Regions from separate parts of the Homo sapiens genome. Here all the other regions are linked to region 3. The links come from fine-mapping of genetic effects on gene expression. A gene starts in region 3. Each other region holds a variant in brackets. All regions are shown on one strand. Distances are from middle to middle.

The links. PIP is the estimated chance that this variant, and not a neighbour inherited with it, causes the effect.
Region 1: its variant is the best candidate, but not a certain one, in a credible set for the expression of ZNF268 in nasal epithelium (TOPMed, PIP 0.70).
Region 2: its variant is the best candidate, but not a certain one, in a credible set for the expression of ZNF268 in whole blood (INTERVAL, PIP 0.63).

The regions. Positions count from the first base shown.
Region 1 is chr12:133,213,252-133,223,705 of GRCh38, reverse strand. ANHX (anomalous homeobox) reads left to right here. Exons shown (of 10, transcript NM_001372060.1): 8 at 2,354-2,501; 9 at 4,339-4,423; 10 at 4,735-5,394. The coding sequence ends at 4,821. ZNF268 (zinc finger protein 268) reads right to left here. Exons shown (of 6, transcript NM_003415.3): 6 at 8,874-10,454. Among named protein-coding and RNA genes, the nearest start is that of ANHX, 17 kb to the left of the region's middle. The variant G/C (reference allele first, on the strand shown) is at 4,874.
Region 2 is chr12:133,006,602-133,017,055 of GRCh38, reverse strand. ZNF26 (zinc finger protein 26) reads right to left here. Exons shown (of 4, transcript NM_019591.4): 2 at 9,888-10,014; 3 at 9,524-9,619; 4 at 1-6,920. The coding sequence ends at 5,575. Among named protein-coding and RNA genes, the nearest start is that of ZNF84-DT, 25 kb to the left of the region's middle. The variant G/A (reference allele first, on the strand shown) is at 5,662.
Region 3 is chr12:133,177,489-133,187,942 of GRCh38, reverse strand. ZNF268 (zinc finger protein 268) reads right to left here and starts at 6,448. Exons shown (of 6, transcript NM_003415.3): 1 at 6,257-6,448; 2 at 5,913-5,997; 3 at 1-71. The coding sequence starts at 5,945. RefSeq lists enhancers at 6,061-6,260, 6,301-6,610, 6,206-6,730.

The DNA of each region.
Region 1 (10,454 bases), 36 kb before region 3:
GGGCGGCTGAGGCAGGCGGATCATGAGGTCAAGAGATCAAGACCATCCTGGCCAATATGATGAAACCCCATCTGTACTAAAAAATATTTAAAAATCAGCTGGGCATGGTGGTGGTGCCTGTTGTCCCACCTAGTTGGGAGGCTGAGGCAGGAGAATCACTTGAACCCGGGAGGTGGAGGTTGCAGTGAGCTGAGATTGCGCTACTGCACTCCAGCCTGGGTGACAGAGTGAGGCTCCGTCTCAAAAAAAAAAAAAAAAAAGAATAAAGTCTCCTGTAAGCTCTGGGCATTTTTTTCTAATATCCTTTGATCGTATCTTTGATAAGTTCCTGCTTCCATGTTTTCAGCTCTCTCTTCAGAGCACAAATGTTATTTGGATGTTGGAACTCCGGGACCAGTCTCCCAAAGAACTTACCTTTTATCTTGTATTTTTTTATTGATGTGCGTTTTGGGTATTTCTTAAATTCTGTCTTCTGATTTTTTGCTTTAACAGTTATATATATATATATTTTTTTTTGAGGCGGAGTTTTGATCTTGTTGCCCAGGCTGGAGTGCAGTGGTGCGATCTCGGCTCACTGAAATGTCTGCCTCCCAGGTTCAAGCGATTCTCCTGCCTCAGCCTCCCAAGTAGCTGGGATTACAGGCATGTTTCACCATGCTGGCTAATTTTGTATTTTTAGTTGAGATTGGATTTCACCATGTTGGTCAGGCTGGTCTCGAACTCCTGATCTCAAGTAATCCACCTGCCTCGGCCTCCCAAAGTGCTGGGATTACAGGCATGAGCCACTGCGCCCGGCCAACTGCTGTATATCTTAAGAGAATTTCAATCCTTCTTTACTGATCTCTGAACTCTTCTTCCTTCATAGATTGTTACTTTCTATGGATGCAATATCTTACACTTCTCTAAGGTTCCTAATAATAATTTTTTTAAATGTGCTTCACTGTCTGAAGTCAGGACTGTTGGGACTGTGGATTCTGGCCCTTCCTTGATGCAGGGCCAGAAAGAAGAAGGGATCTTAGGGCTCGCGCCTCAGGAGAGGGCTTGTCAGTTTGATCATACTGACCTTCCATTTTTTGCTGTCCTTTTTATTTAACTGTTGGACACTCACATTTGCCTGTCTGTACTTACTGACGAGGCTGGCGTGGGGACGGTCAATGGGTGTCTTCACATTGGGACAAGAGGAGCTGGTCTTCAGACCTGGAGCCTGCTCAAGTGAGGGGGGATGTTCTGTGGGAATCAGCGAACTCCTTTGTTCTGTCTATTGAAACCCCTGCCTTCGGGTTCCCTGCTGCTGCCTGGGTACCCGGATGCTCTCCCTCCCGAGCTCCTTGGGAATCTCAGCCCCTGCCCCACACCCCAGCTCCCTGCCAGACACCCCATCACCATGGGCTGCACTTGCGTCCTGACTGCACGACTGTGGACATTGTGCTCATGGCTTTCCCTTTCTCTTGGAAAGAGAATGCGTAATCTATTGCTGTACTATGATGGATGGAACTAGAATGTCCAAACTAGTGCTTGAACATTATTTCCTCTCTCCAGAGTGTCTGTAAGGTCTGCATGAAAGAGGAAATAGCAGAAAGCAGGCACATGGTCAGGAAGGTCCCTTCAACCTAAGAAGGCCCTGGGCAGCTGGGCACCAGGTTAGGTGGTCACTCTGCTGTACAGGAAGGAGGACCACATGAGCCTCACCCCCAGGCCGCTTGTTCCATGTCTTGAGATCAGGGCCATCTTAATGCTTGTTTTACAGCCTAGTAGACTCAGGGCAGGAAAAAACCTGCCTTTTCAGGCCACAGCTCTCCTAAATGTCCACCCAGAATTGACCAAAACCACAGTAGCTTGTCTAAGAGTGAGAGATGTTCTGAGATACGCTCTGGAAAGTCAAAGGGAGGGGAAACTAGTGACAGCTTATACCTCAGTGACATCTTGGTAACCTTAGTAAGAGGTAAAAGTGGAAACCACCAAGGGCTGGTGGCCAAGCACTCCGTGAACCAGCCACAAGAGGAGACTGAGGGCTCCTGGCACATCCTTCCGCACCAGCAGGACGGAGCAAGCTGCAGACTCTGACTGGCACCGAGGGCACATGAGGTCTGCGATGACAGCAGCATTTAAAGTCAGCAGAAGCAACCGTGTCTTGGTCTCTGGAAGCCTGGAAGGCTGTTGAGATCAATGGTTGTGACAGTTCCTTCCTCAGAGAGGGAGACTGAGGCCCAGGGACCGTGAGTCTGGTTCACGTGGCGCGGGCTGGCTGGGCCGGAGGCTGCATCCGCCTCCGTGCTTTGAGGTCTTGGTTGTGTCACACGTGGGCTCTGCTCCTTTCTCCTGCCAGTGTGCCGTGGAATCTCATTACATGCAGGGTTTTCTGGCCCCCCCAGCGGCCATCCCCAGAGCGTGCAATTGGAGGAGGGTCTGGGCACAAGCAGTGGACGGACAGAGCTACGGGTGGGCAGCTTCCTGGTGACACAGCCCCCACTGCAAGCTCCTGAATTCATCCTCACCCAGAGGTAAGCCCTGAAGAGCCACAGGCCTGGACAGTCCTTTCCACAGGCCACAAGATAGGGTAATGCCCAGTTTATAGACTCACCGTCCCGGACTGTGCAGATAGGGTCCTCTCCTTTGGATTGCTGAAAACTGTAACAGTCCCCACAAGCCTACACCTATGAAGAAAAGGGTAGTTTTTCTCTCAGGAGAGCCCAAAACATCAGAGCAGATGTGGGCATCCCATGCATTGGACATGATCAGGGTTCACCCTTACCCCCAAATCACCCTGGACCCCAGCAGCCTTTCTTTTCCCTGAACAAACACTGTCAGTTTCTGGCAGAATCAAGATCCTGATTTTATATTCTGAATTGTAGTTTTCAAGGGACTTGGGGTCTTGAACAGCGTCCGTGAGCACTTGCTGTTGATAGTGTCAGTGCTGTAGAAACAGAAGATGACCAGGGCCTTCGGGGCCAGCCCAGCAGGTGGGATCCTGCAGAGACAGGAGGGATGGAGGACTGGGGCAGGGTGGCCTGGGGTCCTCTGGTGGGGAGGCTATCGCACCCGCCACTCCTGTTCTAGCAGACGCCCCATCCTCTCTACACTAGGGCCTCCAGGAGCAGAGCAGATCCCCAGGTTGTGGGGTCTCCCTCATCAGGGAGCTGCAACCAGGTTGACTCAAGGCTCATGCTAGTGAGGGCAGAATTACAGAGGGACATAGGAGAAAAGGCGGAGCAGCCCCTAAATCACATGGCCTGCTTGCTCAAACAGCCTGACTGTGAGAAAATGTACACCACACAGATGGACTCACTTTTCCATTCATGGCTGGGAGCTGAGACCAGGCAGAGGCTGCCATGGCCACGGTGTCCCCTTGTGTGTCTCGCCTCACCTCTCCACATGGCCATCTCGACCCCTTCTCTTGCTCCCCCAACTCCCATGCCTCCCTGTTCCGATCTGAAGGCCATGCTTCAACCTGAAAACATCAGTTCCTTCGTTAAAAGTGGCTTCATTGAGGTGTAATTGGCTGTACATGTGTAGACGGAGCACCTGAATTTTCTCAGTGTGACTTTCACATCCACACGAGGCCACCACCGTGATGAAGGTCTTCAATGTACCCTCCTCCTGCCTTTCGCCTCTCCCTGGCCACCCAGGACCATGGATCTGCTTCTGTCACTAAGGATTAGCTGCATTTTATAGAATTTCATGTAAATACGGTATATTTTCGGGTCTTTGTTTTGCTGTGGTCTGGCTTCCTTCGCTCTGCATGACGACTTTGAGAGTCACCATGTTTTGGATGCGTGAACAGTTCTTTCTCTCTCTGGGGAGCCACGTGCCATTGCGTGGATGTGCCACAGCTTCTTCACCCTTGTCCTGTGGATGGGGATTTGGGGGCATCACAGATAAAGCTGCTGTGAACATCCTGTATGTGTATAGTCTGCACACCTGCCTTCATTTCTCATGGTGCATGCCCAGGAGTGCCGTGGCCATGTCACATGCTAGTATGCGTTGACCTTGCTGAAGAACCACCGCCCCTTGTCCTGAGTGACTGTGCCGTGCATCCCGGCTCTTCCTCCTTTGAGGTCTCTGTTTCCTCCACATTTCTGTTCACTGGCTCTTCCATGACCCTGCTCTGAGCCCTCTGTGCAGTTGCCCCTATGACCCACCGGGTGACCCTGCTCTCTGTGTAACATGTTCCCCTCCTAACACCCTACATACGTGACAGCCCTGCAGGAAGAGAGTCTGTTCTGATGAGTGTCAAGTACTAGAATGTCTCCTGATGAGGGAGAAAGCACAGCTGGGTGGATTTTGTCACCCCAGTGTCCCCTTGAGATAGGGCCTATTCTTACACTGTCTCTTTTCCAGCCCTCCAGAGCTGGCCCCAGCCCCATCTGCCTTCCCCGGCCCTGTGTCTGCCATGGAGCTGAGCCAGGCCCTGCCCTCCAGCCAGGTGAGGCTTCCCTATGAGCACTGAAGGATTCCCTCTTTACTCCTGGATCTGCAGCTCATGGTGCTGAGGAGGGTTCAGCTAGTGCCACTGGAGTGAATACACCAGGCAAAGATAAACAAGGGGCAAAGATGATTTGTGGCTGGACATTACTGGACTGGGAGCTGGGGTGAGGGATGCTGTGGGGCAACATTCCCTCCTGAGTCCAGACTGGTTGCGGGGGGTCTTCCCAAGGTCAGGAGGTGCCCAGGTGGGAGGGCAGGTCTTGAGCCTGGAAAGGAAGCCTCTGTGTTTACCACTGTGTTGTCTTCCAGGTGCAGTGTTCTGATAGCCAGGCCTCTGGTGATGCCTTCTGGGGAGCCAGGATGCTCCTTGAGTTTTCAGGGAGCAGCCTGGGCTGAGCTATCCCCAGGAGCCAGACAGCACCCCAGGAGGAGCGGGTGTGGATGGTCT[G/C]CCTGGTCAACACAAGGAGTTACAGAGCTTTATCCTGAATACAAAATGAAGGTCCCCAGAGTTCCCCTGGGGGCTCTGCTGAAAAGCAGAGATTCTTTCCCACTGCCATGTTTGAATAGTTTGGTTAGCAATTCCCTGTAGTAGAGAAAGCATTTGAGAAATGTTCGTGAGATCAGAAGTCAAAGGTGGGTCTGTCCCACTCACGCAGCACTGGATCAGTCGGGCTCCGGGGCACTCGTGCAGAGAAGGCCATTCTAGAGAGGGGAGTGTTCTGCTGCTGGCTGCCTTGCCGTCTGCCCGTGCACACAGCCAGACTTTTCCACCAAGTTAACTGAGTGAGGTATGAGGAGTGTTCTGAGATTTCTGTGTGTAGGGGCTTCTCCCTTGAGTACTGGGAGGCAAACCTGTCTGCGAATGGCCTAGGCAGGGCAGAGTAGGGTGGATTTTCCCTCCAGGTTGTAATTCACTGTGTCTATGACACAAATGTTGTAGTCAATTAAAGTTTAATGTTTTGAACTCCCCCCTTGTATTCACTTAACCATGTATCCTGGGCATCTGTCCATGTCAAAGTACAGAGATGAACATCAGCCTTTCCACCCGGGGCCAGTGTTTCATGATGTGGGTGTACATTAATCATGCAGCAGTGCCCGACAGATGGACATCTGGACAGTTTCCAGTGTGTCTGTTTTATATGCAGCATTAGCGTGGGCAACCCTGCCCTCTGCCCTTTGCCCTTCACCTGGCTATTATTAGGATAAATTCCTGGAAGCTGAATTTCTGGGTCGATTATGGTAGCCCTAGGTGTGGACTGTGGATTTTGGAGTGTCTGTGACCTTGTGCTCACCTGGCCACGTGCCCATCTCAGGGGAGAGCCACATGTGGTCTGGGCTGAGATCAGTAGCCCTTAACCCAGAGAAGTCAGACTCTGGCCCTGCTCTCAGGAGCTCCCAAGCTGCTCTGTGAGAGGCAAAGGCACAAATACCAACCTTCCTGTGGGGTCATGGGTGGAACAGAAGGAGGAGCCATAGCTGGGAGATCTGACGGTGGGGGTCGGGAGAACAGGAGAATCTTGACGGAGGTTGCAGAAGAGCATTGTGATAGGGAGGGAATGGGGTAGTGTGGCAAAGAGAACAGGAGCCTTGGTGTCTGGCAACCATTGCATTGCTCACCTGTGGCCCCATGCATCCCTGGCAATCCCCAGGCCTGGAGGAGAAGCAGGAGGGCACTGGGACCAGCTTCCCAGCAACCCTGAGCTTGAAGGATGTGCTGCCAACAGGGTGGTGTGGAGTGGAGGGCACAGCTGCTTGCCTCCCTGTCGCAGGAGAACCAGCCCCCATGTTCCCCACATGCCGGCTCCCCCAGACTCAGGGCAGAAGCAGCAGCAGTGACTACTGTGCTTTGGGCTGCTATGGGAGGCACCACCCTTTGGCCCTCCCAGGAAACACGCAGAGCCTGGGCCCATCCCATCCCTGGGCTGAGGCCTTTCCTGCAACCAGCAGGGCCCAGAGACCCAGCAAAGAGGCACTGGGTGCTAGCTGGTCACAGTCAGAGGCCCAGGCTGCACAAGGATCTCCATGGCATGTTGTTCCCTCTTGTCCTCAGCAGGGCTCAGTCCTGAACATTCTAGAGTCCTGACTCAGACAGCTGTATCATGTCCATTCTAGAGAAAATGGACCAAAGTCTCTGGAGCTGGCCCTTGGCTAGGACTGGACCTCCCAAAAGGGGATCTCTACCAGTGGTTGATGGTCCTGCCAGGATGGAGGCTGGAGGCTCCTCACTTTCTCTGTTCAGCACCTATGAGGAGGAACTGCTGCCCACAGGCCCTTCCTTCCCCTGTCTCCTTTCTGGCTTTATCCCTGGCCTCTCTGACAATGGGATGTGGCCCCACAGCCTGTTCTGCCCTCATCCCATTAAAGGACCAGCCTGAGTCCAGTGGACACAGGTAAGGCACCATGACCAAGTGGTGTGACCCCTTTCTGTGCCTTCCTGAGGCACCTGTCTAGAGAATGAAGGGACATAATGGCTGTTCCAGTGGATTGATGGCTGGGAGGAGGGGCCAAGAGAGGTATGAGGGGTGGGGTTTGGCCAGCCCTGGGCTTTCTGGACTCCAGGGACAGCGAGGTGGGGGCTCAGGGCAGCTCCAGTGACAGCAAGGTAGAAGCTCAGGACAGCCCCAGGGACAGGGGTGGAGGCTCAGGTGCAGCCCCAGGGACAGCAAGGTAGAGCCTAAAACAGCACCAGGAGACTGAGAACTGAGACCAGGACTTCCAGACAGAGTGGAAATGACCACCCAATAGCAGTGGTGGCCCATGAAGAGCCCTACTTCCCTGACTCACCCTCTCGGGTGGGCTTGGGAGGCAGCTGTGGTCTGGAGAGAGTGGTGGATGGAGCATGCCTGTGTTCCTTTCCTAGGGCTGCTGTAACAAAGCACCACAAACTGAGAGGCTTAGAGCAACGATTTGTTGTCTCCGAGTTGGGAAATCCAGGAGACTGAGTCATGCTCTTTCTGAAGAGTGGAAAGGATTGCCCCCAGGCCTCTCCCCAGTTCTACTTGTTTCTTGGCTTGTGACATTGAAGCTTCAGTCTTCAGTAGCCTTCCTCCCTGTATGCATGTCTGTGTCCAAATTCCCCCTTTTTATAAGGACACAATCATAGTGGATTAAGGCTGGCTTTAATTACTTCATCTCACATTTATCATCTGCAAAGACCCTATTTCCATATAAGGCCGCATTCACAGCTACTGGGGGTCAGTACTTGAACATATGAATTTGGGGGATATAATTCAACCCCAGCAGTGTCTCTGTCTCTGCTGGTGATCACCATATCCCTGCTGGTGCCAAGTAATCATGGCCCCTCCCAGGGTGCCCCATCCTTGTACCTGGTGCTCCAGGCAGTTCACAGGAGGGCCTAACTGCTGGGTTTGGGGCTGGCATTGGGATCCCTTGCCCAGTAAGGGCTGGATCCAGACTGTTCTGGGGTTGAGGTGCTGGTGTTTTGAAGGCAGGAAAAACCAGAGGCTGGTCCTTCTCTGGACGGTGAACCACAGCAAGGGACCTCTCATGGGGGCTCCCATACCTCCTGTGACCTGGGCAGAAAGTCGTACAGTCCCAGGCCTCCAAAGGCAAAAGCCCCTTCTGACTCAGATAACATCCCTCCCACTCTGCTTGCCTGCAGAGCCCCGGAGGTTTCTGGGGAGCTTCAGTGGAGCTGAATCATCAGGGTTGAGGCAGGCCCTAGCATTGATCGTTAGCAACCAGAGAGTGGAAGCGGTGTAGATGGCAGCGAGTTGCAGGTGGCCTCAGTTCTAACTAAATATTACAATACTAGCATGATTCCACTTCCTGGAGCTGGCCTCTGGGGAGCCCCAGGCTGGTGTATTTATGATAGGGTCTGTGTGGCTCATGAGGCTTCACGTGGGACTTGGGCCATCTCATGACCAGACAAGTGCCCCCACAGCTGGGTTACCTCTGCTGTGTGGCCTGGACACAGGTTCATGTGACTCACAAACTTTGAGTGGCACCTGGAAACGAGGTTCTGGGCTGGAACCTGAGTGTGAACCTCACTTGGAGGCTGTGTGATTGCAGGTGAATCATTCAATCACCTGAGCCTGGCCCTCCCCTCTGCACAAGGAACTAGCCATACCTAGCAGATAGCTGTGAGTCACCTGAGCAAGATAGCTGCATGGTGATGGTCAGAAAACACTGATTTCTCCTTATTGAAATGGGACAACCCTTGGATACCACGTGCCGAGCTATGAATTCCAGCAATGCAAGTTTCAAAAGACCCTGTGTGCCCTAAGGAGGCACTGCTGATCACTTAGTGTCTGTGAAGGCATCAGAAGGTGACCTGGACCTGGAATGATGAAACAGCCATGGGTTTAGGAGCTGGCAGATGGTGTGGCTGGAGCACATGTCTGGAATGTGGTTGGCCAGGCCCAGGCAGCACTGGGCTATGGAGGGACTTAAATGTGAGGCTAAGAGGGCTGACCCTGGTGAGGGAATGCTGTGGACTAGATTTTTTTATTGAGGTAAAATTTACACAATATAAAATTAACTTTTAAAAATGTACATTTCTGTGACATTTAGTCCATGCACAACATTGTGCAGCCACCACCTCTTAGTTCCAAAATAGTTTCATCACCCCAAAGGAAATCCTCCATCCATTAAGCAGCTGTCACACATTTCATCCTCCCTCCGACCCTTGACAACCACCAATATGCTCTCTTTGGATTTACCCATTCTGGGTATTTCATATAAGTGGTATCATACAGTATGTGACCTTTTTGTGGCCAGCCTCTTTCTGCACATTGCTTTTATTTTTATCTTTGTAGACATGGAGTCTTGCTATGCTGCCCAGACTGGACTTGAACTCCCAGGCTCAAGCGACCCTCCCACCTCAGCCTCCCGAGTAGCTGGGATTACAGGTGTGTGGCCTTGTGCTGGGTTCTCAGCACAATGTTTCTGAGGTTCCTCCACGTTGTAGCAAGGGTCAGTCATAGCAGCTTTACCATTTTACAGCGGTGTTCACATTTCTCCACTTCTTTGTCAATACTTGTTTCTGGTTTGTTTTTAAAATAATAAGACATTCTGATGGGTATGGAGTGTTATCTCATTGTATTTTTGATTTATATTTCCATGATGGCTAGTGATGTTGAGTATCGTTTCATATGCTATTTGCATATCTTCTTTACAGAAAAGTCTCTTCAAGTCCTCTGCCCATTTTGATATTGGGTTGTCTTTTTGTTGTTGGGTTGTAAGAGTTCTTTATATGTTCTGGATACTAGACCCTTATCAGGTATATTATTTTACAGTGTCTTTTCTCCTATATTCACCTTTTTTTTTTTTGAGACGGAGTCTCGCTCTGTCGCCCAGGCTGGAGTGCAGTGGTGAGATCTGGGCTCACTGGTTCCAGGTTCACGCCATTCTCCTTCCTCAGCCTCCCAAGTAGCTGGGACTACAGGCTTCCACTACCAGCCTGGCTAATTTTTTGTATTTTTTTGTAGAGACAGGGTTTCACCACATTAGCCAGGATGGTTTCGATCTCCTGACCTCGTGATCCACCTGCCTCAGCCTCCCAAAGTGCTAGGATTACAGGCGTGAGCCACCACACCCGGCCTTTTTTTTTTTTTTGAGATGGAATTTTGCTTTCTTGCTCTGTCACCTGGGCTGGAGTGCAGTAGCATGATCTCGGCTCACTGCAACCTCCACCTCACAGCTTCAAGCGATCCTCCTGCCTCAGCTTCCTGAGTTGCTGGGATTACAGGCACATGCCACCACACCCGGCTTTTTTTTTTCTCTTTTTTTTTATTTTTAGTAGAGACGTGGTTTCACCAAGTTAACCAGGCTGGTCTCGCACTCCTGACCTCAAGTGATCCTCCCACCTTGGCCTCCCAAAGTGCTGGAATTACAGGCGTGAGCCACCACACCCAGCTCCTTTTCACTTTCTTGATAGTGTCCACTGATGCCGAAAGTTTTCAATTTTGGTGAAGTCCAATTTACCTATTTTTTCTTTTGTTTCCCATGCTTCTGGTGTCATATCCAATAAATCATTGCCAAATCCAGTGCCAAGAAGTACATGAAAA
Region 2 (10,454 bases), 170 kb after region 3:
AAATATTTTGTTTAAAATGACATTATTTCACCCTGGTTTGTGAATAACCCTTCTAGGTAGATATTTTCTTTCAGAACATTGAAGACATTCTTTTACTGTCTTCTGATTTTTACTGTTGCTATTGAGAAGTCAACCTAAGCATGTAAAATTGGAAAAGGGCAACTCAATGATAAAATATCAGACTTTCAACTAATATTCCCATCCTTACAACCTCCAATGATGGTATCTCATAACATATTACAAATACCAAGAGAGTAGAATTTTTTTTTTTTTTTGAGTCAAGGTCTTGCTCTGTCACCCAGGCTGGAGTGCAGTGGTACAAATATGGCTTACTGCAGCTTCAACCTCCTGGGCTCAAGCAATCCTCCTGCCTCAGCCTCCAGAGTAGCTGGGACCACAGCCCTAAGCCACCATCCCGGGGTATTTTTTTTTTTTCAGAGATGGGGTTTTGCTTTGTTGTCCAGACTGGTCTCAAATTCCTGAGCTCAAGTGATCCTCCTGCCTCCCAAAGTGTTGGGATTATAGGCATAAGCCACTGCACCCAGCCAGAGTAGGGCTGATTTTAAATTTTAGACTTTGGCCCCAAAGTGAGCTGTTATTTTCCTTTTACTGTGATGCTCTTAAAATAGTTAAAAAAAAAAAAAAAAAGTAGCTAAATTGTTTTTAAAAATTAAGGATGCTCTGGCCGGGTACGATGGCTCATGCCTGTAATCCTAGCACTTTGGGAGGCCAAGGCGGGTGGATCACCTGAGGTCAGGAGTTTGAGACCATCCTGGCCAAAATGGTGAAACCCCATCTCTACTAAAAATACAAAAATTAGCCAGGTGTGGTGGCAGGTGCCTGTAATCCCAGCTACTCAGGAGGCTGAGGCAGGAGAATCACCTGAACCCCAGAGGCGGAAGTTGCAGTGAGCCGAGATCACGCCACTGCACTCCAGCATGGGTGACACAGTGAGACTCTGTCTCAAAAAAAAAAAAAAAAAAAAATTACCCCTACACTTTTTCACAATAAACCTTAGATCTTCAAGACACTCACAAAACCAAAAGCCACTTCCTTCTCTCAACACTTACCCCCAAGACAAATGAAGATATATGGAAATATATGGCATACCTAGTTCAGACTTCTATTAAAGAGTCACACAAACATTCCATCAATAAACATGCAGCATGAATTTCTAAATAAACGTCTGCTTGAAGCACTTTTATTTGCCAGTAGAAGTAATATTTCCAACTGTCTCAGGTCAAGAGTTCCTTTTGGCCTCCAGCCTGATCTCAGACTGGACTTTCCTCTTTGGGAACTCCTATGCCCTCTACTCAGAAGACTGTCCTCTTGGCTTCTTTTGGCTTTTCAGCAACATTGACATTTGTCTTCTGTATTATTATTATATAGTTTGTTTATTTATTTTTACTTTTTACAGATATGAGGTCTTGCCCTGTCATCCAGGCTGAAACACAATCATGGCTCACTGCATCCTCAACCTTCTGGGCTGAAGCGACACTCCTGCCTCAGCCTCCCAAGTAGCTGGGACCATAGGAAAGCATCTTATTTTTTTTCATTTTTTAGTTCTCTTTCTTATTCTTTTGCCACAAGTTGATAATTGAGGCCGATGCAAGTGAAGACATAGATACATGCCACAGTTAGGATTGTGTCATATACACAGAACATGTGTTTGTCATTTTCTTTTCTTTTTTTTTTTTTTTTTGAGACAGAGTCTCACTCTGTCACCCAGGCTGGAGTGCAATGGCGCAATCTCTGCTCACTGCCACCTCCACCTCCCGGGTTCCAGCGATTCTCCTGCCTCAGCCTCCCAAGTAGCTGGGATTACAGGCGCCCGCCACCATGCCCGACTAATTTTTGTATTTTTAGTTGAGACGGGATTTCACCATATTGGCCAGGCTGAACTCGAACTCCCGACCTTGTGATCCACCCACCTTGGCCTCCCAAAGTGCTGGGATTACAGGCGTGAGCCACCACGCCCGGCCAGTAGCTACTACTTTCAATAACACACTTTTATTGGGTCTTGGTGGAGGGAGAGGGCTGAGGGTCTTAGGAACACATAATGGATACAATCCAGCATGTCACAAAGCATTATCATTCTTTCTTCTAGATTATGGCAAAGTTCCTGACTTTTGTTCTTCCCCTTGCCATAAGCCAGTGTTGGATCTGGTCTTGCCTTAGCTGCTACAGCTAACTTTTAAAACCATCATCATGGTCAGGCATGGTGGCTCACGCCTGTAATCCCGGCACTTCGGGAGGCCGAGGCAGGTGGATTACCTGAGGTCAGGAATTCAAGACCAGCCTGGCCAACGTGGTGAAACCCCGTCTCTACTAAAAATACAAAAATTAGCCAGGCGCGGTGGCACACACCTGTAATCCCAGCTACTATGGAGGCTGAGGCAGGAGAATCGCTTGAACCCAGGAGGCGGAGGTTGCAGTGAGCCGAGATTGTGCAATTCACTCCAGCCTGGGTGACAGAACAAGACTCCGTCTCAAAAAAAAAAAAAAACAAAACAAAACAAAAAAAAAAACAGAAAGCAAAACCATCATCACTGCTGGGTGTCAGTGCACCAAGTATATGCTGTAAGTAATTGCCCTTCACTGAACACCCTCAAAGGATTTCACAAGTATCTACCCCCTCCCCCAACTTTTTTTTTGAGACAGGGTCTCACTGTTGCCCAGACTGGAGTACAGTGCAGCTCACTGCATCCTTGACCTCCTGGGCTCAAGTGATCCTCCTGCCTCAACCTCCTGAGTAGCTGGGATTGCAGGTGTGCACCGCTGTAACCAGCTTTTAAGAAACTTTTGTAGACAGGGTTTTGTCACGTTGCCCTGGGTGTTGTCATGCTGAGAAGTTTTGATACATTACTCATTCCTGCAATGCTCTATGAATTCTACATATTTTCCTAAATGAGCAATCCCATCCCAGGGCATGTTTAGTGTAGATTATTGTTACCAAACTGGTAAAAATAAGCCATGGGGAACTGGCAGAATAAGCTTCCTCCTGCAAGGCAAATTCCACATTTTCCCAGAAAAGGGAAGGGGTTCTATCTGTATCAGGAGGTGGCAGGTTTTTTATACCTCAACTACTCAACTGTGCCATGGCTGTGCAAAAGCAGTCAAATAATACACAAATATATTTAGCCATGTTCCAACAACAGTTATTTATGGACACTCAAGTTTGAATTTTATATATTGCCAACATCTACTCTATAGCCTTAAATGAAGCATCTGCAGTGCAAAGTCTATCAGAAGAGTTTGCTAGGCTGAGTCCTCAGGTTCTTCCCAGATACTCCTATTCAAAGTCTATCAGAAGAGTTTGCTAGGCTGAGTCCTCAGGTTCTTCCCAGACATTCCTATTCAAAGTCTATCAGAAGAGTTTGCTAGGCTGAGTCCTCAGGTTCTTCCCAGATACTCCTATTCAAAGTCTATCAGAAGAGTTTGCTAGGCTGAGTCCTCAGGTTCTTCCCAGACATTCCTATTCAAAGTCTATCAGAAGAGTTTGCTAGGCTGAGGCCTCAGGTTCTTCGCAGATACTGCTATTCAAAGTCTATCACAAGAGCTTGCTAGGCTGAGTCCTCAGGTTCTTCCCAGATATTCCTATTCAAATTATCAAGGGATAACTTTTTGAGGGGGGGAAGGGTGAGGATAACTTTTTCAACACATGTTTACATTAAGGGATTTAGTAAACATTTGAGGTGAACTGACTTTAATTCACCAAGCCAAATATACTATTTGATTCCCACCACCTCACTCCTACAGCTGTAAGAAACTTTTTCAGCAATGTCAAAGTTGCCAAGTCTGACACTCCACCCTGAGGTGAGATTTCAGGGCTTCAGGCCTGTCATTCTCATGGTCTAAGATCCAGCAAGATCAAAATCAGCCATCTCTGCCCCTGTCTCAGATTTTCTCATAAATTTAAAATTCTTATAATGCTATAATTCTTCAGTGTTTCCAAAATTTCAGTATCAGGCACTACAACGTTCCAGGTGTACAGAAACAATAACCATATTTCACATGATGGCTAAAAGTTGCTATCTTCAAATATAAACAAGAATGTGATTTTCTTGTCTCAGGAAAAACAAACAAACCTAAATCATATACCCCACTTTGTTAACTACATGCTACCAAGGCAACAACTGATCAGTTAAAGCCCTTAGGTTATAAGAAATAGAAAGCTGGCCGGGCTCGGTGGCTCACACCTGTAATCCCATGACTTTGGGAGGCTGAAGTGGGCAGATCACCTGAGGTCAGGAGTTCAAGACCAGCCTGGCCAACATGGTGAAACCCCGTCTATACTAAAAATACAAATATTAGCCAGGCATGTAATCCTAGCCACTTGGGAGGCTGAGGCAAGGAAATTGCTTGAACCCAGGAGGTGGAAGTTGCAGTGAGCTGAGATCATGCCATTGCATTCCAGCCTGGAGGACAAGAGTGAAACTTAGTCTCAAAAAAAAAAAAAAAAAAAAAAAAAAAAAAACCCAAACAACAAAAAGCAAAAGACATTTTTATTGAGAAGTGAGGAAACACACAGATCAGAGAAGCAGGTTCTAAAGGGATCGTATCCACAGTTATTCTTGTAATCAATTAGCCAGAATGAATGGATGTTCTCAACAGAATTCTGGGACAAGAATGAATGAGTTCCCACATTTTCTGGTTCATGTACAAATGAATTACAGACTCAAAATTCTGAAAAAGAGATTACCATTATCCAACAATGGGTAAAATGCTCACCTGTAGCTAGTGGAACGGATACCTGAAAGACACTACCACAGGAAGCACCCCAGAGAGGGGAGGTATTTCTCCAGAGAAAACAGGGGTGCTCATGTCAATCAATGGACAACAGGCATGGAACTGCAAAATATAATAAACGTTCATTATAATGAGTTCTCTTAAGCGGCAGCCCTGTAATAAATGCCAGATCTGCTTATGAAAAAGAAATCAAAAGATAATTAGCATTTAATATGGAAAATACTGGGGGATATTATTCCACAAACTATCAAATATATATATAGATAGATAGAACAAGTTACATTAAAAAATAAAGTACAAAAAATTTTAGAAATACTATTCAGTGTTAACTCAGGAAAGTCACATTAAATATCCATTAACTTTAAGACTCTGTTCCCTGCGTTTTTCCTGAACATTATTTACATATTTTTAAAAAAACAACTTTATACTCCACCATGAAGTCAACTGTTCATACCAAGATTTTATTTTACAAAAACACAGCTTCAAATCTGGAATGTGACTTTCCATGGAACACACTTTCAATGGGAAAATGCTTCCTTAATTTATTCAACTTATAAGGTGTTCCTAGTGTAAATTCTCTGAATCTTCATGATGATACTACAACATTTGATACATTTATTGCTCCACATTCCTTCCATTATTTTCATCTACAAAGATTTGTAACTTATTTCTGAAAGCTTTTACACTCATCCCAAATATGGTTGGTCTCTCTCCTCTCTGATTTTTGACATGAGTGTAATTTTAGGGCCTCCTGCTTGTAAATCCTGTCTATATTATCCGAAGTCTCCTGAACATCAGTTTCTCACATTGCATCATTCTGATTTCTCATTTATGAGTCTTCCGATGTATACGAAGCCCTGAATTCCAACAGAAGGATTTCCCACATTCAGAGCATTTCCATGGTTTCTCTCC[G/A]GTGTGAACTCTCTGATGTTCACTGAGAGATGACTTCTGAGTGAAGGCTTTTCCACATTCACTGCATTTAAAAGGTTTCTCTCCCGAATGAGTTTTCTGGTGTATCTGAAGTGATGCCTTCCTAGGGTAGGCTTTTTCACATTCATTGCATTCATAGGGCTTCTCAGTTGAATGAGTTCTCTGATGTATAATCAGCTGTGATTTTCCACAAAAGGCTCTCTCACACAAACTACATTCATAGGGTCTCTCTCCGGTGTGTGTTCTCCTATGTATAACAAGGTATGACTTGCTGCTGAAAGCCTTCCCACATTCACTGCATCCATAGGGCTTCTCTCCTGCATGAGCTCTCAGATGTGCAGTGAGCTGTTCCTTCCTACCAAAGGCTTTCCCACATTCACCGCATTGATAAGGATTATTTCCTGTGTGAACTCCCTGATGTACAATGAGTTGTGTCTTCATATTGAAGGCTTTCCCACAATCACTGCATTGATAGGGTTTTTCTCCTGTATGCATTCGGATGTGAACAAGGAGATAGGACTTACTCCTAAAGGCTTTCCCACATTCACTGCATTTATGGGGTTTCACTCCTGTATGAGTTCTCTGGTGTACAACGAATGGAGACTTCAAACTAAAGGCTTTCCCACATTCGCTGCATTCATACGGTTTCACTCCTGTGTGACTTCTCTGGTGTAAAAGAAGCTGTGATTTCCAACTGTAGGCTTTCCCACATTCACTGCAGCCATAGGGTTTCCCTCCTGTGTGAATTTCCTGATGGACAATGAGCTGTGACCTGAAAGAGAAGACCTTCTCGCACTCACTACATGAGTAGGGTTTTTCTCCTGTATGAACTCTCTGATGAGCATTAAGGTTTGACTTGGCACTGAAGGCTCTTTCACATTTACTGCATTCATAAGGTCTCTCTCCTGTATGAATTCTGAGATGTACAATGAGCTGTGACTTACAACGAAAAGCTTTCCCACATTCACTACACACACAGTTTTTTTCTATGCTATGAGCTCTTTGATGCTTAAGAAAATATGGTTCTTCATAACCATGAAACTTATCAGGATTCTTTCTTAAATAACTTCTGCTTGGAGCTGAGTTTTGTGTCAAACTTTTTCCACGTGTGTTATAGAGTCTCTGTCTTGAAGAATCATGGGTTTTGCTCAGATTAAGTCTTCCCAACACACTACAAGCATAGCTTCTTTCAATACTCTCAAGCTCATCTTGATTGTTCTGGTACCATTCTTCCCAGCCATCTACAAAAAAACAAACAAAATATAACTTTTTGAATCATAACATAAACCTGATATGGAATTAAACAGTATTAGGACTGTGATGTAATCAACCTTTCTCTTTTGGTAACAAGCCTACCACACTGGTTCAAAAGAAATACTGGCCAAGCATGGGGGCAAGGGAACTGAATCAAAACAAACCAAAACAGGTCCCGTCGTGAAAACTGGTAGCAAATTACCAGTAATCAAAAATACTTTTTAAAATAGAGGTTTAAAATTGGCACTTGGATTAGCCAGGCATGGTGGCGGGCACCTGTAATCCCAGCTACTAGGGAAGCTGAGGCAGAAGAATCGCTTGAACCTGGGAGGCGGAGGTTGCAGTGAGCCGAGATCACGCCACTACACCAAGTACAAAGTTCCTGAGGAAGAAGCCTGACTGACAGGGTTTAAGAAATAGAAAAAGGCCAGGAAAGCTAAAACCCACTGAGTGAATGGAATGAAAGCAGAACCAAATTATTCAAATCCATGGCAAAAAGTTGTTCATATTTTTAAGATTTTTTTTTTTTTTGAGACAGGGTCTTGCTCTTTCACTCAGGCTGGAGTGCAGTGGCGCAATCTTGGCTTACTGCAGCCTCGACCTCCTGGGTTCAAGTAATCCTCCCATGTCAGATTCCTGAGTAGCTGGGACTACAGGCACATGCCATCATGCCCAGCTAATTTTTGTATTTTTAGTAGAGATGGGGTTTCACTTGTTGGCCAGGCTGGTCTCAAACTCCTGAGCTCAAGCGATCCGCCCGCCTTGGCCTCCCACAGTACTGGGATTACAGGTGTGAGCCACTGTGCCCAGCCTAAAGGTTTTAATTACAGAAAATCTCAATCTTCTGCATTTAAAAGATCAGTTTGACTGTTCTGTAAAAAGTAAGAAAAGGACAGAGAAATACTTTAGGAAGCTATTGTAGCAGTCCAGAATGAGATAATAATTTGAACTACAGTTCTTGATATACTTTGGGTATCTGTCCCCACCCAAGTCTCATGTTGAATTAGAATCTCTAGTGCTGGAGGTGGGGCCTGGTGGGAGGTGCCTGCATCTGGATTATGGGGGCAGATCCCTCATGGCTTGGTGCAGTCTTCACGATAGTGAGTTCTTGTGAGATCTGGTCATTTGATAGTATGTGGCACATTCCCCGCCCCGCCTTACTCCTGCTTTCACCATGTGATGTGCTTGCTCCCCCTTTGCCTTCCACTATGACCGGAGCTACCTGAGACCTCCCTAGAAGCAAAGGCTGCCATGCTTCCCATACAGCCTGCAGAACTCTGAGCCAATTAAACCTCTTTTCTTATAAATTTAGTCTCAGGTGTTTTTCTTTTTTTTTTTTTTTTTTTTGAGATGGAGTCTCGCTCTGTTGCCCAGGCTGGAGTGCAGTGGCACGATCTCGGCTCACTGCAAGCTCCGCCTCCTGGGTTCACACCATTCTCCTGCCTCAGCCTCCTGAGTAGCTGGGACTACAGGCGCCCGCCACCACACCCCGCTAATTTTTTGTATTTTTAGTAGAGACGGGGTTTCACCATGTTAGTCAGGATGGTCTCCATCTCCTGGCCTTGTGATCCACCCGCCTCGGCCTCCCAAAGTGCTGGGATTACAGGCATGAGCCACCGTGCCCAGCCAGTCTCAGGTATTTCTTTATAGCAATGAAAGAATGGCCTAACACATGTCTGGAGTTGAGGAAATTTGGAACATACGGGAGAGAGAACTAAGATGGTTTGCTAAGGGACTAGATGTGGGAGCAGAGAAGGGGAGGAGTCAACAGCTTGAACGGCAAGATGGCACTGCTCCTTAGAGATGGAAACACTAAGAAAGAAACTTGTGAAAGAAAATGAAGGACTCTGGCCATTTCTTTTGAGGAAGAACGGTAATTTTAGAAGGAAATCCCCATTTCTGATACTGAGAGTAAAGTCTGGGAAAGCGTGGGGTAGCGCTCCCACAGGCAGGTAAAACCCAGGACTCAAGTGCCAAAGAGAAAGACGTCAATTTTGATGTTACAACACTGGGGGGAAAGCGTAAACCTTCGGAACGGAAGAGCCTTTCGACAGTTACAACATTCGGAGAGGAGAGCCAAACTGGGAAAAAATACCCCTCTGGACAACGCAAAAGGGAAGTATAAGGTGTGTAAAGTCACTCAAAGATATAGGAGACACCAGGGCCAAGACTGTGAGTCAAGTCTAGGGGATTTAACTGTGGAAGGCAAAGGAGGAAATAAAAGAAATGGAAATAGAGGGCAATGAGCCACATCAAGTGAGGGGAAAAAGAAATCCTCTAAAGGTCTCGATGCCCAATAAAACCCATGACCATGGGGAGGACGGAAACTTACCCAAAAGCAAACCTGAAGCAGAGTTCAGGAAAGAGGGGCATGCCTGCCTCTCAACAGTAAGGGGGAAGAAAAACCCAAATATATGAAGAGTGACGGCGATGTCCTTATCTGAGGAGCTCCTGGCTTCATCCTGAGTCAGCTCCAATAGCTCAAGGACTTCCAGAAGCATTTCTGAAGACAACACTGTGAGTGCCCACTCCTCAGGTACTCATCAGCTCACTCCCATGCCTCCCACCTTCCTCTTTCTCACTCACCCACCTGGACAGCTCTGCCTGGAAATTTTGGCATTTATTATCCATGGATCTTCTCCTTGTTCCAACTTGAAGATTAAGTCAGGCTTGGTACCATGATACCCTGTTGATGGGAAATCACAAAGGGTGGGGACCAGGCTGTTAGGGACAGGACCGAGGAATCAAGAGCTACAGAGCAAAACTGCTCATCTCACTTGGGGAAAGATTACAATTAGGAAGTGTGGGACAAACAGGGACTAAGGAAATTTGACCCCTAAAGTTCAAGTTCATAATCATTAAGCACTTCAGAGATCCCGGAGTAGTTCAACAACAAAAAAAGGGATGGCAATTTAATATTCACTATCTGAGTAACATTGAGACGCAGTACTTACCCACTGATATCAGGTTATGATAGTTTTCCAATATCACATCTCTGTACAGGTACTTCTGTGTAGAATCCAGTAGCTGCCATTCATCCCAGGTGAACTCCATAGATATATCCTTGAATGACAATAATCCCTGAAATAACACACACCCTGTTCAATTGGATGCAATTACATTAGGTGACATGGAAAAGATGCAGAGGAACTGGGAAGGGATAAATGTTCCTCTACCAACTATTTCCTGTGGCTGGTTCAGCATTTACTTTGTGAGAGAATTAAAAATCAATCAAGGAGTGCCAGGCACGGTGGCTCACGCCAGCACTTTCGGAGGCCAAGGCGGGTGGATCACAAGGGCAGGAGTTCAAGACCAGCCTGACCAAGATGGTGAAACCCTGTCTCTACTAAAAATACAAAAATTAGCTGGGCGCAGTGGCAGGCACTTGTAATCCTAGCTACTCAGGTGGCTGAGGCAGGAGAATCACTTGAACCCAGGCAGCAGAGGTTGCAGCAAGCCAAAATCGTGCCACTGCACTCCAGCCTCGGCGACAGAGTGAGACTCCATCTAAAAAAAAAAAA
Region 3 (10,454 bases):
AAGATGGATTCCTGACCTTGGAGCTTTCTGATCCTATCCCATGAACTGTTTCGTTCTTGGAGAGGTGGGACCTGTGGACTCAAGAGCAAATTTACTTTAGCGAGCATTATTTCCTTTGGGGAAAAGGAAATAGGGGTCACATCACATAAATGTGAGAGAAACACGTTAGAAAACAAGGCAGGTTTAACTTCAGGAAATGCAGGGTTAGAGGCAGAAAAGAAATGGCTTCCTGACAAGGCTTAGCACCAAGAGTTCAAGTCAAGTTTTGAGCCCTTCATGATAAAAATACAGGTACGACCCTCAAACAGCAAAGCTAGAGAAAACTGTCCTGGCTCATCCTAGCCTCCAAACGGACTTCCTGCCACAAACCAAATGGCGTCTTAATAGGCTGGTTTGGTAGGGCAGTAGGAATACCCACACAACATTATTATGAGGGAATAAGGAACCAAACGAGGCTCTGACAGACAATAAAAACATAACCAAAATATCTGACCACATAAAAAATTGTAACATAATATTTCAAAATGAAGTAAAAGAAATCAGAAAAACGAAACTTTGAAAGGACAGATATATAAAAAATAAAAGAGCCTAGAAAGTAGATGCTTAGAAATGTGAAATCTGGAAAATGTGAAATGAGAAATATCAGAATAAATAAATAAATTAGGAAAAAAATTCAGAAATGAAGATTAAATTTAGGAGGAACATAAAAAAGCGCCAACGACCTAGAAGGCGGCACAGGTGAAAAGTGGGGAAAGCCTAAAAAAAAAGGAATAAAAAATTAGAAAAAGAAACAATGAATGAAATGCCATGAAAAGGCTGTTCACCAAGGCATTTTTATAACCCAAATATCTGTAACTACATAACTGGTTGAAAACACTATGGGCCATCCATACAGCCAGTAAAAGGTGATAAGAGATAGGGAAGAGGGAGCGAACAACCTCTATGTACCACTATTGGTATAATACAATGATCAATATATACTCTTAGTGATAATGACAAGGGGAAGAATAGTACGTACAGAAAGCTAGCTTTTGTGTTACAAAAAAGAAGTGGGATTGCAAGTATACGTATACGCATGTGTGTGCCATATAAATGGGATCATATAATATCTAGTCTTTTGTGTCTGGCTTCTTTCACTTCGCATAATGCTTTCAAGGTTTATGCTTGTCATAGCACATATCAATAGTTTGTTCTTTTTGTTGGTGAATAGTATTCCATCACGTTTCATCATTCACCATTAATGGACATTAAGATTATTCCCTGGAGGCTGGGCGCAGTGGCTCATGCCTGTAATCCCAGAACTTTGAGAGGTCGAGGCAGGTGAGTTGCCTGAACTCAGGAGTTCGAGACCAGCCTGGGCAACACAGTAAAACCCCGTCTCTACTAAAATACAAAAAAAAAATCAGCCAGGCGTGGCAGCGTACACCTGTAGCCCCAGCTACTTGGGAGGCTGAGGCAGGAGAATTGCTTGAACCTGGGAAGCAGAGGTTGCAGTGAGTGCCACTGTACTCCAGCCTGGGCAACAGAGTGAGACTCCATCTCCAAAAAAAAAAAAAAAGATTATTCCCTGGAGACCAACAGCTTATGTCTCAGAGCCTTCTCTGTGTACACTGGGCACAGTCTACCCGCTCCACATTTTACTCTACATTTCAGGGTCTAGGATCCTAGAATCTCTGCCTCAAGAAATCCTCAACCTACATCCAGAGACTAAATAAGGTACACAGGCCAGGAAAATGCATGTAGAGCCAGAATATCTGGGTTCAAGTCCTGGCTCTACATTGACCAGGGGTGCCACCTGGTCTCCAACTAGCCCTTTCTGGACCTCAGTACCCTTACCCATCAAAGGAGAAAAACAGTATTCACCACCTGGGGCTAGGGCTACTGTGAAGTTTTAAGGTGATAATACCTAATAAATGATTTAGCACAGAACCTCATACGTAGTAGACACTGAGCATTAACATTTGGTTGAAACGGCAAAAGAAAACAAAACAAAACATAAAACCAGGAATACTTAATGAAAATAAACCACACTACAAAATGACAATCAACAAGATAAAAAGCATATGCTGGTTCTTAGAAAAGAGGACTCCACCTTCAAACATCCCCCAACTCTGACCAGTGTCTCCATTTCTACCACACTACACAAAATCCCTGCTACCTCTTGTCTGAACGTGGTCACCTAGTCAGTCTCTGGCTTCCCCCTCTTTCTGTGCCTACTCTTGCCCACCTACAACCTGTCCCCCACTCAGCACTCAGAAGGGTCTTTGGAAACCCTAAGCAGCTCACGTTGCTCCCTGTCTTAGCGCCACACACTCTCCCGGGCCCCATGGCTTCCCAGCCTGATCTGGCCTCTGCACCTGTGTTCATCTGCTCTCCTCTCTCTCACTCCCTACCCCCAGTCACAAAGTCCTTCCTTCCAGGTTACCTGATCTGGCCTCTGCACCTCTGTTCATCTGCTCTCCTCTCTCTCACTCCCTGATCTGGCCTCTGCACCTGTGTTCATCTGCTCTCCTCTCTCTCACTCCCTACCCCAGTCACAAAGTCCTTCCTTCCAGGTTACCAAGGCATCAAACTTCTCTTGCCTCGCAGCCTTGGCCCTGGCTGTTCCCATCCTGGATGTTCTTCTACCTGCTCTTCCCAAGGCTGGCTTGCTATTGTAACTCAGACTTAGCTTAGACGTCACTTCCTCAGTGGGGGCCTTCCCTGAGCACCCAAGCTAAAGTAGCCACCACACATTCTTTGTTTTTTTTTTTTTTTTTGAGACAGAGTCTCACTCTGTCGCCAGATTGGAGTGCAGTGGCGTGATCTTGGCTCACTGCAACCTCCTACTCCTGGGGTTCAAGCGATTTTTCTGCCTCAGCCTCCCGTGTAGCTGGGATTACAGGTGCCCACCATCACGCCCAGCTAATTTTCATATTTTTAGTAGAGACGAGGTTTCGCCATGTTGGCCAGGCTGGTCTCGAACTCCTGACCTCAGATGATCTGCCCACCTTGGCCTCCCAAAGTGCTGGGACTACAGGCGTGACCCACCACACACAGCCCATCACCACTAAATTCCATTTAGGTTTTTATGACTGCTACGGTTTCAATGATTGCATCCCTCCAAAATTCATGTTGAAACTTAACCCCCATTGTGATGGTATTAAGAGGTGGGGCCAATTAGCTGGGCATGGTGGTGCGCACCTGTAATCCCAGCTACTCAGGAGGCTGAGGCAAGAGAACCACTTGAACTCGGGAAGCAGACGTTGTGGTGAGCAGAGATAGCCACTGCACTCCAGCCTGGAAGACAGAGCGAGACTCAGTCTCAAAAAAATAAACAAATAAATAAATAAATAAAGAGGTGCGGCCTTTTAATAGTGATTAAGTCATGACGGCTCTCCTTCAGGAATGGGATTAATACCCTCTTAAAGAGGTTTCAGAGAGCTGCCTGGCCCTTTCATCTCTTTGGCCATGTGAGGACACAGCATTCTTCCCTTTTTGCCCCCTTCCACCATGTAAGGATGTAGCAAGAAAGTGCCATCTTGAAAGCAGAGAGCAGAGCCGGGTGCGGTGGCTCACGCCTGTAATCCCAGCACTTTGGGAGGCTGAGACAGGTGGATCATGAGGTCAGGAGATCGAGGTCATTGTGGCCAACACAATGAAACCACGTCTCTACTAAAAATACAAAAAAAAAATTAGCTGGGCGTGGTGGCACACGCCTGTAGTCCTATTTGGGAGGCTGAGGCAGGGGAATCACTTGAACCCGGGAGGCAGAGGTTGCAGTGAGCCAAGATCGCGCCACCGCACTCCAGCCTGGGGACAGAGAGAGACTGTCTCCAAAAAAAAAAAGAAAACAAGAAAGCAGGCCTCATCAGATACCAAATTCACCAGCACCTTGATCTTCAACTTGTCAGCCTCCAGAATTGTGAGAAAGTAGTATCTGTTATAAGTTCCTCAGTCTGTGATATTTTGTTACAGTAGCACAAACAGACTAAGACAATGATCTAATATTACTTGATCTCCCTCATACATGTCACTTGACAAGCATTTTTGAGGTTTCCATTTCTTTAAGTGTGAATTACATGTCTCTATTTTGTCTTACTTTTCTTGGGTTCCATCTCAGTCTTCAACACCTCTTCCCCTGCTTTCTCTTGTCATTTCCCTGACCACTGTCCTCAGTTCTCTTCTTAGGGTACACATTCTCCCTGAGCTACTTTGGCCACACCTAATTTGCAACCTCTACCTAGAGGAGCCAATCCATACAAAACTGAAATCTTCCCCCTCTACCAATCACAATTCTGACAGTCTTCCCTTACTCAGCAAATGGTGACACTCCCAACCAGGCCCACAGAGTAGAACTCCAGTTGTCATCCCTGGCTTTTCTGCCTCTCTTAGCACTGCACCCAACTAGTTATGAAATCTAATTTCTTCTGCCTCTTTACCTCCTCTCCTTTTTTTTTTTTTGAGACAGAGTCTTGCTCTGTCACCCAGGCTGGAGTGCAGTGGCGCGATCTCGGCTGACTGCAACCTCTGCCTCCTGGGTTCAAGCGATTCTCCTGTCTCAGCCTCCCGAGTAACAGGGATTACAGGTGGGAGCCACTGCACCCAGCCACCTCCTCTCCTTTCTCAAAACCACTAATTTACTTAAACCCTTATATTCTCTTACCTGCTGCAGACTAGACTGTTCTACCCTCAAATCCGTTGTGAAAACACTTCAATAAGTAAACTCCTTCCCCTATACCAACAGTCCCCAACCAGGGACTCGTTTTGTGGAGGACAATTTTTCCATGGACGGGCAGTCGGGTGCGGCGATGGCTTCTGGATGAAACTGTTCCACTTCAGATCATCAGGCATTAGAGTCCCATAAGAAGTGCGCAACCTAGATCTTTCGCATGCGCAGTTCACAATAGGGTTTGTGCTATGAAAAGCTAATGCAGCCTCTGATAGGAGGCGGGGCTCCGGCAGTCATGCTCACTAAACCGCCACTCGCCTCCTGCCATGCACCCCAGTTCCTAACAGACCACAGACTGGTACCAGTCTGAAGCGTGGGGGTTGGGGACCACCTGCCCTATGTGATACAATCCAAGTTTTTAATGGGGTCCTCAAAGCCCTCTATGATCTTAGGCCTACGGCTCTAGCCTCATTTTTTAATATAACTCTACTATCACCATTAAACTCAACATTTTAGCAACCCTAAAGTGCCCAAAGTTCACCACATGAGGTCATTTCAAGCCTCTCAAATTTGCACGTTACTTCTTTTTCCTAGGCTGGTTTTAATCCTTTGTCTACTTTAGGTTTGTCATCTTTCAAACCTAAGGTTAAGAATCTCTTAATCATTGAAGCATTTGGGAGTAAGGGGTTAGGGGGTGTCCTTACTTCCAAAACTGACCCATTCCTGCATGTCTCCGTGTATTTCCACAGCCTGCTCCCAGAGCACTCATTAACTTGTCATTGTCTTTCTTATCCACCATTCCTAGACCACTGTTCTTCAAGACAGGGATGATAAGCAACCCATCTTTGCATTTTTAGCACCTGCCCCAGGGTCCAGCAAACAAAATACAATAAAAAAAAATGTTGAACAAGTGAATAAAAAAGTTTGTAATTTCCAAAATAAGGTTTAAAGATCCCAGATACAGAAGGCCCTCAGTAAATAAAGGCTGAAAAAACTGAAAGATGTGTGAGTATCCCTTGTTTAACTCCAAAGTTCAGCGTACAAAGTTGTTAGAAAAGAGATTGATGAAAGGAGGAAAAAAGGAAGTCGGATGACAAGAAGCATTTCTGGAAAGTCTAACATGCTATAAATGACGATCCAGTTGCCTAAAAGAGCGGTGGGGTGAGAAAGCTCCTGGCAAATTCAGACTGGAGTAGATGGAGTGCGCACACGTTGGCATTCAGGGAGAGCTTTTCAAGAATGAAAGAAAACCCCTACTCACCCAAATAGAAGCTGTCCGGACCCTGGTGGCCATCCCTACGGTCAGTTTTGTGTGCCTCGCTGGAAGTGACAGGACGCGAGGGATGCTAGAAGAGAGAGCACAGTGAAGAAAGAGGTCACCCAGCAGTCCCCAAACCCAGAGGGGGAGGGTCCGAGGCACCAGGGCTGCCTGCCATTCTCGGAGCTGAGGCTCCTTCCCTCCCACAGCACGGGATTCACCATCTCCACACCCTCACCAACACACAGGTTAGGGTCAGGCAACCGCCCCGGGTCAGCAGCAGGAGAGAGCTAAGGCAGATTAGTTCTGTCCCGTCCCGCCGCCTTGAAACCGGAGGAATTCCGCACCTCCGGCTCCTCCAAACCCTGAAGGGGCAGCAGAATAGAGTCCAGGGTACTGCCTCCACCTCCAGATCTGCAGCCAGAAGGGTTCGCAACCACTCCAGACTCGGCTGGCCCGTTGACCACGACGGGCGATGAACGCTATCTGAGGAACAAGGATCTCGCCATCGGCGCGGAACAATGGCGGCCGCTACGTATGTCGCACAGGAATTGCGTCATGGAGAGGCAAAGGCAAAAAAACTACAACTCCCAGAGGCCTCTGCGAGGAGTTACTCCCGCGCCGGAGGGCTCCGGCCAAGGGCCACCGGGAGGGGGCGTGCTAAGATGACCCGGAAGCTCAGGCCTTCCTGGCCAGGTCCCTGAGCTCCCGCGCTTGCAGGTTTTAAATTTTAAAGAGAATTAAAATACTTGACACCAATGGCTCAACGGTTGGAGGGATGTAAATTAGGTTACAAGTGTTCTAGTCCCTGCTTTACTGAAATGGTAAAAGTCTTATTTTGCTTTACACTTTAATAACAGATTCGTAAAATTCCCATTACATGTTAACATAAATAATATTTTAATGAAAATTACATATATTTTACAAAAGAAAAAATTTAGTAAGGAGTGGCTTCGCTTTTTAAGTCTTTTCTGACTTACTAGAAAGCTGGATTCTCATATCTGCTTCTATGTTTAATCTGTTGCGTATGTTGTTTTTGTTAAAGTATATAAAGATACAAGTCGAACAAGGGATAGTTTTGTTAGTGTACAATCTGAAACCACGTAGATGAACTTTTTCTACTCTATTACATAAAATCCGTTGGTCTACACTGCACTTTGAATGGATTCTTTTATCACGCATGATTTCGTAACATCATGTATTGGCCAGTTGGAAAATATTGGTTTACTTTAATGGCAAAAGCCGCAATTACTTACTTTTGCACCAACGGAAAATATCCACTAATCATTATTGATCTTAAGTATTGGGAAGAGGTGACATTCACAGAGGCAGATACAAGTTTTCTAGAATTCTTTTGTTTTTGGCTTTTAAAAACTTTTATAAATTTATGAGGTACAAGTGTAATTTTGTTACATGCATCAGTTGTGTAGTGGTGATGTCAAGGCTTTTAAGGTATCCACGCCCTATAGTACGTTATATGCATTGTACCAGTCAGGTAATTTATGATTATCCCTGAAACCCCCCCACACCTTTTGAGTCTTCATTGTCTATCATCCCACACTCTACATCCATGTGTACATATCCTTTAGCTCATACTTAAAGTGAAAACATGTGTTTTTCTTTCTGTGCCTGAGTTGTTTCACTGAAGATAGTGGCCACTAGTTCCATCCATGATGCTGCAAAAGACAATTTCATTCTTTCTTATGGCTGAATAGTATTCCATTGTGTATATATAACACATTTTCTTTATTCATCCATTCATGGACATTTAGGTTAATTCCATACCTGTGATATTGTGAATAGTGCTGTGATAAACATATGAGTGCAGGTATTTTTTTTATATATATAATGATTTCCTTTGGGTAGATACTCAGTAACAGGATTGCTTTATCAAATGGTAATTCTATTTTTAGTTCTTTGAGAATTCTCCACACTGTTTTCCATAGGTTATACTAATTTCACTTTCTCACCAACAGTGTATAGGAGTTTCCTTTTCTCCACATCCTCACCAACATCTTCTTTGTCTTTTTATTTTTATTATTTTATTTTATTTTTTGAGACGGAGTTTTGCTCTTGTTACCCAGGCTAGAGTGCAGTGGCCCGATCTCGGCTCACCGCAACCTCCGCCCAGGTTCAAGCAATTCTCCTGCCTCAGCCTCCTGAGTAGCTGGGATTACAGGCATGCACCACCACACCCGGCTAATTTTGTATTTTTAGTGGAGACAGGTTTCTCCATGTTGGTCAGGCTGGTCGCAAACTCCCGACCTTAGGTGATCCGGTCACCTCAGTTTACCAAAGTGCTGGGATTACAGGCATGAGCCACCGAGCTCGGCCTGTTTTTGTTTGTTTTGATTTTTTTTTCCTTTTGAGACGGAGTCTCGCTCTGTCGCCCAGGCTGGAGTGCAGTGGCGCGATCTGGGCTCACTGCAAGCTCCGCCTCCCGGGTTCACGCCATTCTCCTGCCTCAGCCTCCCAAGTAGCTGGGACTACAGGGGCCCGCCACCACGCCTGGCTACTTTTTTGTATTTTTTAGTAGAGACGGGGTTTCGCCGTGTTAGCCAGGATGGTCTTAATCTCCTGATCTCGTGATCTGCCCGCCTCGGCCTCCCAAAGTGCTGGGATTACAGGCGTGAGCCACCGCACCCGGCCCGGCCTGTCTTTTTAATAACAGCTACTGTGACTGATGTAAGATAATATCTCTTTTTTTTCCCCCACAACCTCGCTCTGTCGCCCAGGCTGGAGTGCAGTGGCTTGATCTCGGCTCACTGCAACCTCCGCCTCCTGGGTTCAAGCAATTCTCCCCGCCTCAGCCTCCCAAGTAGCTGGGATTACAGGTGCCCACCACCATGCCCGGCTAATTTTTGTATTTTTTATGAGAGACGTGGTTTCGCCATGTTAGCCAGACTGGTCTTGAACTCCTGATCTCAGGTGATCTGCTCACCTCGGCCTCCCAAACTGCTGGGATTACAGGCGTGAGCCACAGCGCCCGGCCTCATTGTGGTTTAAATTTGCATTTCTCTGATGTTTAGTGATGATGTTGAGCATATTTTCATATGCCTGTTGGCCATTTGTATGTCTTCTTTTGTAAAGTGTTATTTGTGTTCTTTGCCTGCTTCTTAATGGGATTATTTGGGTTTCGTTGTTGTTGTTGATCTGTTTGAGTTCCCTGTAAACTCTAGATATTAGTCCCCTCTTGTATGCAAAGCTTGCAAAAATTTTCTCCCATTCTGCAAGTGTCTCTTCACTCTGCTTACTGTTTATTTCACTATGAAGAAGATTTTTAGTTTAAGTCCCATTTCTCTCTTTTTCTGTTTGTTGCATGTGCTTTTGAGGTCTTAGTCATGAATTATTTACCCAGACCAATGTCCAGAGGGGTTTTCCGTAGGTTTTCTTCTAGTATGTTTATAGTTTCAGGTATTCCATTTAAGTCTTTAATACAGCTTGAGTTGATTTTTGTATATGGCGAGAGATAAGGGTCAAGTTTCATTCTTCTGCATATGGCAATCCAATTTTCCCAGCACCATTTATTGAAGAGGTTGTATTTTCCCCATGCTTGTTCTTGTTGACTTTGTCAAAGATCAGTTGGCTGTAGATATGTGGCTTTATTTCTGGGATCTCTATCTGTTCCATTGACCTATGTGTCTGTTTTTATACCAGTACTATGCTGTTTTGGTTATTATAGCCTTATAGTATAATTTGAAGTCAGGTGAAGTTATGCCTCCAGCTTTGTTCTTTTTGTTCAGGATTGCTTTGGCTGTTTGAGCTCTTTCTCGGTTGCATATGAATTTTAGGATTTTTTTTCTTTTTCTTTTTCTTTTCTCTTTTTTTTTTTTTTTTTTTTTTTTTACACAGAGTCTCACTCTGTCACCCAGGCTGGAGTGCAGGGTCATGATCTCGGCTCACTGCAACCTCTGCCTCCCAGGTTCAAGCAATTCTCCTGCCTCAGCCTCCAGAGTAGCTGGGATTACGCGTGTGCACCACCATGCCCGGCTAATTTTTGTATTTTTAGTAGAGATGGGTTTTCACCATGTTGGCCAGGGTGGTCTTGAACTCCTGACCTCATGATATGCCCATCTTGGCCTCCCATAGTGCTGGGATTACAGCTGTGAGCCACCGCACCCGGCCTAGGATTTTTTTTCTCTAAATCTGTGGAGAATGACGTTGATATTTTGATAGGGAGTGCATTGAATCTGTAGATGGCTTTGGATAGTATGATAATTGTAACATTATTAATTCCTCTGAACAGCATGGGATGTTTTTCCATTTGTTTATATCATCTACAATTTCTATCATCAGTATTTTGTAACTTTCCTTGTAGAGAGTTTTCACCTCTTTGGTTAAATGTATTCTGAGGTGAGCTTTTTGTAGCTATTAAAAGTAGAATTGCCTTCTTGATTTTGTTCTTAGCTAGATGTTGTTAGGGTACAGAAATGCTACTGATTTTTTGTTTTGATTTTGAATACTGAAGCTTTCCTGAATTCATTTATCAAATCTAATACTTTTTCAGTGGCATCTTTAGGTTTTTCTAGATATAAGATTATATCA